Linked DNA regions of Homo sapiens: region 2 is linked to region 1. Evidence: fine-mapped expression QTL. A gene starts in region 1. The other region holds a variant in brackets. All regions are shown on one strand. Distances are between the middles of the regions.

Region 1 (4,401 bases):
GTTTAACTGCCAATTAATTTGAATAAAGACTGTTAGTGCTTCCTCTAGCAAAAAATCGAAACAGCTGTGACAAAAACAAGTGCATTCAGTTTCCATGTCTTTATTCTGTGATGCTTCTTCACTCCTTGTACACTTTAACCAAAACTTTCATGCAAGCCAAGTCAGCTCACTCTAGAATTACACCATAAACAGGACTTTAGGTTGCTAGTGCCTGTTTTTGGATAAAAAATGAGGCTCCCAATGTCATCTGGAGAGCTACAGATTGGAAAATGCATTTTAGGAAAAAATTTCACTACTTACCTCCAGTGTGACCCTAAAGTTTGATTTCCTTAGACTACTTTATGCTGGCTACAACTTGAGAATCAAATGAATCACTGAGGACCCTTGTTAGACATGGAGTTCCAGGCCCCATCTCACAGCTATACAACCAGGAGAAAGACCAGGGAATCAAAAAGTCTTATCAAGTGCCTGGAATGATTCTTGGGCTCAAGCAAGTTGGCAGTCTTCTTAAATTTGTAATGTGCATACAAATTAACTTGGGCTTTGGAAACGAATGCTGTTCCTGATCCAATTGGTCTGGGTGGGGCCTGAGATTCTGCATTTCTAACAAGCCCCAGGTGATGTTGCTGGCTTGAAGACACTTTAAGTAGCTAGGCCAGAGAGGATATTTCGTTTGGCTGGCGTACAAATCAGTTTAAGCCATTTCATTTTCCTTCTATATTTCTAGATTTTCTATCAGGGGCTTCTCTGACCTTAATGCTGCCCAGTTCTCATTATGTCTCTTCAAGCTACCGCAATCAGTTAACACAAGGCATCCTGCCCTTCTCCACTTAGCTCATATAAAAATCCACAATGGATACAAACAGCCCCAAATAAGAAATGGACACGAAACATTAACTTATAACATAATGGGTTTATATTTAATATAGTACTTCTCATCAGGAGGATGTTACTCAGTTAATATAAAGTTTTTTTTCAAAACATTAAATCTCTTTTCCATGTCAATGTCTATAGTTTTTTTTTAACATTAAATTTTTTTCCGCATTTCAGTATTAGATACACTGAATACATTTTTCTAAATGTTTTTTCCCTAGAGATAAAAGTTTTCCTTTTTGCCTGACTCTCTGATATCTAAATATAATATTAACTTGGGAGACAACAAAACAAAAATCTAATTTAAAAGACTCCTCAACGATTCAGGAGGCAGTGATTATAACCGAACAGTGGTGATTTCCTAAGATTCTGGGCAAGAACTTCCTTCTTCCTATTTCACATGCTTTGAGAGAATTCTAAGATTATGAAATATTACTTATGTAAATTTCAGCCATCTTACTTCTTTGACTACCTAACTAGCAAATTATAGGCTGCATTTTTCTGTGCATTATTTGTTGTAAAGAAAACATTTTTTTTTCAATTTATAAATGTATGTTTGTTGCCATTTCATGGAAACAATGAAAAATGTGAAACTCCCTTATTTACTGATTCTTGGAACCTTTCACACACCAAATCTCAGGTTTAGCCTCTAAAGCGCAAAGGTTTTCAGGGTGAGGTTTGACTCAGTAGGCCTTTCAAAGTCACATCTGTCCATTTCTTTTTCGTGCATATACCCCCAAGCAGGCACAAATGCCTGTAATGCTGAGAACCACACCTAACAAAAGGGCGATTGCATCACCGGCTTCTACTGCTTCCACAACAGGCAGCACCAAAAGCAGTGACATGAGGACTAAGGACAACTGTGTTGAAACTGAGGTCATGATGTTGGAATCTTGAGGGCTGAAGGTTCCTAGAAATTAAACATGGAAACAAAAAGGAACCATTAAAAATTCCTCCCTTTTCAAATGACAAAATGAACACATGACAAATAACAGGCCAGCCAATCTTTTGGATACTTTATGAATCATTTCCAATCCATCTCCTCATCTTATAGGTGGAAAAACAGAGGGACGTTAAAGACAGTAATTTGAGGTTCATCTCCCTATCTCGTGATAACACTCTAAACCCAGGAATTTTCCACGATAATGCCAACACCTCGTGCATCAACCAAACAAAAATTGAACAGGAGTTCATAATTAAGAACAAACAGAAAAAAAGCACGAGCCACTAACTTGGAAACTTAAAATATCCTAGTGGGTAAAAATTGTACATTTTCTTAGGGTCTCTCCCATCCAAGAAATGCAGACAAATTTGGCAAAAGTCACACAACATATAACTCTGCGAAGTTGTGGGGAATTAATAAGACTTACCAAAGAAATGGTATATATAGAATTCTATCTGACTTGAAATTTTCCCTTCCTGGAGCTCCGGATGCTGAGATTAAGAGGTTCCACGTGACACGACCTATTATTAGCATGGGGGGTGGGGAGGGGGCGGAGAGAAGGATTTAAAAATTAATTATTATTACTATTATTATTTTAAAGAGGCAGCTAGAGTCAGTGCAGAGCGTGGAGGCCATATGGACGGTAGGGGGATAGGTAATGAGTTGAGAAAAGTCTGTCCAACAGGGAACTAGACTTAAAAGTTGGTCAGTTCACCCACACAAGAAAAGGTAAAAAGAAACAGAACAGAGATAATTTCATTTCAGGACTTGATATTAAGATTTGAAAAAGAATTCGTACTTTGGCCCGGCAAGGTCCAAATTTGCTCCTGTTTTACAAATACACTGGTGCAACCTAAGTATCCTTTGGAGACGAGTTCGTACATTACCTTCTAGGAAGCAGCCATTACAGGAATGGCGAGGAGGGCGGAGTCTCCAAACTACATTTCCCACAATCCCTGCCGCCGCCGACTCCTATGATGCCCCGGCGCGTTCCCCCTATAAGTAGCAGAGGGCGTGACGGTCACGCTCTAGCGGAGGCGAAGAGTCGCGAACGCGCGGGACTTCCTTTCCCTGCCCAACGTTTTACTATTAAATAGATGGTTTCGTGTGTTTATATAAAAGCTCACTTCAAAATAAAAGAAATGATAGCAAGTGTTTTCTACCCTGTTGAGTCTGTAAGGCGCACATGTAATTTTGTCTTTTTCTTCGACTGAAATGACACAGCGGGGAGAGAGAACCCAAGTACAGCCCTCTGTTCCGGGTGCTTTTAAACCAGTGGCTTCCAACGTTTCTGAAGCAGGAAATCTCTGTCACCATCTTCCTAATGAAACATATGCCATTTATTAATTTTTTAGTCAATGGGGAAAAAGCGCGGTTAATAAGACATATCGTAAAAGGTTAAAAAACATTTGTAGTGCAAAATAAAGTTTAGGAAAAATGGGTTTAGCCCTGTTGCAGAAGATCTCTCAGGATTCAGGTCCTAAAGTGACAATCTATTCAGGAGTGCACTGCGGTGATTCCTTCCCACCTATGTTTTTGTGAAACCTCAGCCCCAAATGTCCCTACATATTTGTGAAAAGATGTAAAAATACTGCTTTTAAATCATAAAACAAGAATTAGTTATTTGTATATGTAAGTCGTAACCTTTCTGAAAGGCGCTCTTTCAATTGTCTGCTAATTGTGAACTCCTTACTGAACCTTTCTAGTCATCTGATCTTCTGAACTCTTTCATATTTACTGATTTGAAAATTTATTTGCTATCCTTACATTATAAATTATTAATGATGAGGGTTGGGTGTGAAGCCACCTGCCTGGTCTGAAAGTCCCCTGGTTCAGTCTGTTAGATAATGCAGGTACGTTCAGTTCAATGCCAATAATTAGCATGTATTCTTGTGTTGTCGGTTACCCTTTTTCTTACACGTTCCTAGTCTCTCTAGCAAAGATTTATATTCTTGGCTCCTAACCGGCACCCAGCAGGTGCTCAGTAATGTTGCCTAATAATAATAATGATTTGACTAGATAAATATGCCAACAAGATCTTATGAGAGACCGAGAGGTGCCAAATAAACCAAACCAAGGTGACTAGAAAATTGGAAATCTGAGAATAACTGCACAATAACGTCAGCATTGTTTCTCTAACCTTGATTATTTTAACAAGGTTTTGTTCATTTCATCCTTTGTTTTGAGCTACTTTCGTGCCTTTGTAATCAATTATATTTGGAATAGGAGTTATATTTTTATAGCTTCCAAAATATTCTCTCATATCCTACTGTGAACATTTTGTTTTTCCCTACATGTTTATTTTTCCTTATGTGTTTATTTTAGTTAGCTGAAGTCAGCAGAGACTACTTTAAAGTTAGTATTGTTACAGACTTGTTTCTAGGCACGTCAACATTAAAGATAATGGTTTGGTTTTAAGTTTAAAGAGTCTGTAAGTGGCAAGAAACTTTCTCTTTAAATTATGATGGTTTTTATTAGTTTGTGAAATATATATTATATTGGGAAATGTCGATCTCGGGGGCGGGGTTCCAGTAATAGCTGATGTAGTTGCAAGGATTAATTTCTGGAGTACCATGAATATGATA
Region 2 (4,401 bases), 29 kb after region 1:
ATGGCAGTGGGATGTATTGGGAAGAATCTGGATTTTGGAATCATACTGTGTTCAAATCAGAGACTCAGCTGTTGCAAAAATAAAAATGCATGTGCAAACACGTAACACACTGCTTGGCTTCAGATCTGTGATCAATACATGTGTTTCTTCATTATTTTCTTTCTTTCCTTCACTAAGAGAGATAATAAACAGTAATCATTTACACATATCTGAGAAAAGAAGCTTTGGAGAGAGAGCAACGAGTGTTTCTGGAACTGACCTCCACACAGAGTAAATTCAGAAATCAGCAGATCTACATTATTTATTCAAAGAGAGAACTGCATTGTAATCACTTTCCTGGATGCATGGGGTGAATGAGTGACAGCAAATACCTCAGTCATTGTGAGATGGCAACCTGAAGTAGGTGCATCTGAGAAAAAGGGCAGAGACCTCCCCAAAGGTCAAACAGAAGCAAGGCAGCAGGCAGCATTGCAGGGGAGGCAACTGCTGGGAAAGACACAGCAAGGAAGAGCTATTATGGGATGCCTCTCTGTGAGGTAGGGAGTGACTGTATATATGTTTTGAGACATCAGATCCTCCTCACCAAAGAGCCACTCTGGAAATTCTTGTTTTGACTTCATCCTTTAAGATTTTAAAAAGCAGTACCCTGAAGCTGTTTTCTTTGTTTTACTTTGCTTTAATGACTTAACAGCATTACAACATGGGTTTAAGTGCAAGAGAGTTTAGAAAACCTTTAGAAAAATAAGTCAAGCAAAGTTCAAAAGAAAACATGAATCTTATGCTAATTTTACCTGTAGGACTCAGGGCAGAAGTGGCCAAGCTTTTTGGCAGAAGGCACTGTTGAAAGGTATTGTGTGGTTGTGGCGGAGACAGTGGGAGGATGAAGTGAATCAGAAACTGTTGTTCTGTCTGGGATGAGGGGAAAATATCTGAAACTACTCCTTCATTGAGCAGAGGGCCAAGGATAGAACCCCAAAGAACCAAACTAAACTCAATCATAGCAAAACATCCTCTTTCTTTTTGTTTCTGCTGCTACACAGAAGAGATGAGGTGGGGATGGTCCATGAAGATGAATGACTGCTTCCTAAGACACTGTGGCGAGGAGGCTGTGGAAAGATGGCAGCAGCAGACTGTGGAGAGAAGTCAATTCACTGTGAGTGGTCAGACAATACCTGAACCAAGAAGACACATGGGACAACCTCTTGGGAACAGAAAGTTCAGAAAAGGGCTAAGAAATAGGATGGAGATAGGGATACTCAATGATCTAGTCATAAGGGATCAAAATGGGAATGCAATTAGGAAGTAGAAGGCCTGAGATAGACAGCAGCCACTGGGATTGGAAGCAATTTTAGGATGATTTCCCAAAGGGTAGAGATGTTCCAACAATAGCTTGATGATAAATTTTGTATTTTTTCAGGGCAGCTTGGCACTTCCCCAGGTAATCCATTCTCAGAGTTTCTGTTCAATCAAAAACTGTAGCTTCTTTGGTTTAGGAGTTTCCTGAGCCTGTCTCAGGGCAATAACGCCTTCTGGGTTAACTGGAGACTTCGTCAGAGACAGATGGGAGCTAACTCCAAAGAGTCATCATGATAACTGCGGTTGTTCAGATTCTTTATTTCTGGGCATCACATAGAATTTAGATTGGGACTCCTTTTCTATCTAACTGAGGGATGGGAATCATAATTGCATATTTAATTTTGTCATTAGAAATGATAATAAACTCATTGCCATTATACCACATGGTTTAAAAATAATCTGTTAGAGCATTTGTTTCTTGTTGTTCAATGTAACCAACCTTATTAAAGACCTTGTATCAACAGTGTTGTTTTGTTTTGTGGCATAATTAAAATCATATTTCTGACTTGTGTAACGTATAAACACATGCAAAGTTGTCATATTTTTTTATGAATACAGTGATAGAATATATGGGACTTTTGATAACTTACTGGTTTTTAAATGACAGAATTCATTTTTTTTTTGCATCCTGAATCAGAGTTGTGATTTGCTAAGTCTGGTATTAAAAAATAACTCATTTATCCAGAGCTGGAAGAGGTCAGTGAGACAGATAAGAACATTTCCTCAGTTTACATTCCAGGAGTGTGTCTA[C/T]GTGCAAAGCCTATAGAGTTGGAGGAAGCATGGGGAAGCCCAGTAAGGAGAAGATAGACTAGGAGAGGGATGAAATGGGCTGCTGTCAAAGACCAAATGCATCTGTGACTTGTATTACTGAGGAAATGCAGTATTTCAGAACTCTTTTTAAGGAGAGGACTATCTGGATCCACCAGGGCTACCTTCTTCCTAAAGATCTGCTGTGTCCTGCTGCTGGGTGAATTGCCTTCTAGTGAATTGCCCACTCAGGTAGAGTTCAATACTCTACGAAGAAGAGTTGTCTTAATAGAAAGAATGACTGTTTGGAATGACTTTGAGTCTCATTGGAGAGTGAGATCATGTGCCATGCCCTTCAGCACATTCTTGCCAATTGGCAGTGGATGAAAATTGGACCAATCCTCTGACTGGTCCTTGAAATTTCACAGGACAGGCTCAGCGTCCCAGATGAATAGGATTATTGGCATCAGTGACTTCATTTTTACTTCTTATATTAGTTTACCAGGACTGCCATAACAAAATATTGTGACTGGGTGGCTCAATCAAGAAAAATTTATTTTCTCACAGTTCTGGAGGCTGGATGTCATCCAAGTTCAAGGTACCTGCAGGTTTGGTTTCTAGTGAGGCTTCTCTCCTTGGTCTGCAGATGGCTGCCTTCTTGCTATGTCCTCACACAGCCTTTTCTCTGTGTGCCAGCATCCCTGTGTCCCTTCCTTTTCTTTTAAGGAAACCAGTCCTCTTGGATTAGGGCCCTACCTGATGACCTTATTTATCCTTAATTACCTCTTTAAAGGCTTCATCTCTAAATACAGTTTCATTGGGAGTTAGGGCTTCAACATATAACTTTTGGAGGACACAATTCGGTCCAAAAAACTTCTCATACAGCTTCTGTTGGTAGGGAACATCAGTAGAAATGTAGCATGAGCAAAAAATAAACCTGATATTTTTGAGGCACTGAGATTTTAGGTTTGCTTGTTAATGTAGCACAACCCCGTCTACTCAGATTAATAATCATGGCTTGTATTTACTCTGAGTTGAACAGCAACATGTGGTCTTGTTTAACAAGACAGGTCTTTTGGTAGGTCCTGCACTCCTATGCACCTACATATAATCAGGTATACCACATCCCCTCAGAAAGGATGCTTGAGAATCCTTTCAGGTGAGAGGTGCCAAGTGAAATTGCATCAATGTTTAACTGTTATTTATTGAGAACCCATTGTGTCAGACTCTAGAGATACAGTGGTAAATAAGACAAAATCTCCACCGCATTCCTCATAGCTCAAAGGAAGAGAGATATTAAACAAATAAACATGCAGATTAGTGTTTACTTAATACAATTTAGGTAAGTGCTGACAAAATAGTATATTTTATTTTTTCTTGTCAATTTTAGCTTCAAAGAGGACTGTTTTCTCATAAATGAAGCCTGGTATATCTAGAAATTAGGTGCCAATACTCCATGGGCACAGGCAGAGACTGAAAGAGTAGTGTCCTAGGCAGGATGGCTGAAATTGTGTCAGCTCTTTGCAGTCTGGTTTGGGAGTAATCAGCATGTAGATGATAACTGAAGTTATAGGGATGGTTGAGATCACCCATGTTGGGTGAAAATAAGGTAGGGTGTGAAAAAAGGGAGACCACAGTATGAGCCTGAGAACATCAACATTTAAAGAACAGGTAGAGAATGAGTTTCATTCAAAGTGAGTGGAAACAGAGCCCCTTGGGAGTTAAGAAGAAAGTAAAAAAAAGTAGTACTACAGAAGCCAAGTGAAGATATCATTTTCAGGAGTAGGAGAGAGTGGACAAACCTGTCAAGGATTAAGCAACAGAACAAAAATGCACACATGGGATTTAACAAGGAAGGGGTTATTGATGACTTTAATGAAAGTGGTGAAGGTAGAAACAGACCCAGTGAGTTGAGGCATGAATGGGAGTTGAAGAAATACCTGTGGGGATGTCTACAGCTCTTCTAAAATATGTGGTTGTAGTTATTTTAAGAGTATAATTGGATTTTTTTTTTAACACAAAGAGGATAAATGCTTGAGGGGATGAATACTGCATTTACCCTGATGTGATTATTACCCCTTGTATGCCTGTATCAAAATATCTTACATACCTTATAAATATATACACCTACTATATACCCACAACAATTTAAAAATATTTTTTAATGTGTCTGTAGAGGAGAGGAGTAAAGCAGAGTCAGTTGGGAAGAAATGAAAATGAGAAAATTAAGGGTGAGTTTTTACATTTTAAGATAGGAGAAACAAATATGAATTCTGATGAGAAGGTGCAAGAGAACAG

The links. PIP is the estimated chance that this variant, and not a neighbour inherited with it, causes the effect. A credible set is the group of variants that fine-mapping cannot tell apart.
Region 2: its variant is the best candidate, but not a certain one, in a credible set for the expression of SMIM30 in sigmoid colon (GTEx, PIP 0.62).

The regions. Positions count from the first base shown.
Region 1 is chr7:113,115,825-113,120,225 of GRCh38, forward strand. It overlaps SMIM30 (small integral membrane protein 30), which reads right to left and starts at 2,730. Exons shown (of 3, transcript NM_001352688.2): 1 at 2,704-2,730; 2 at 2,244-2,337; 3 at 894-1,783. The coding sequence starts at 1,754. The coding sequence ends at 1,575. The region is part of intron 2 of LOC107986837; the gene reads left to right. RefSeq lists enhancers at 2,501-3,095, 2,990-3,129.
Region 2 is chr7:113,144,623-113,149,023 of GRCh38, forward strand. LOC107986837 reads left to right here. Exons shown (of 4, transcript XM_047421162.1): 3 at 1,041-1,153; 4 at 1,418-1,819. The coding sequence ends at 1,504. Among named protein-coding and RNA genes, the nearest start is that of SMIM30, 28 kb to the left of the region's middle. The variant C/T (reference allele first, on the strand shown) is at 2,107.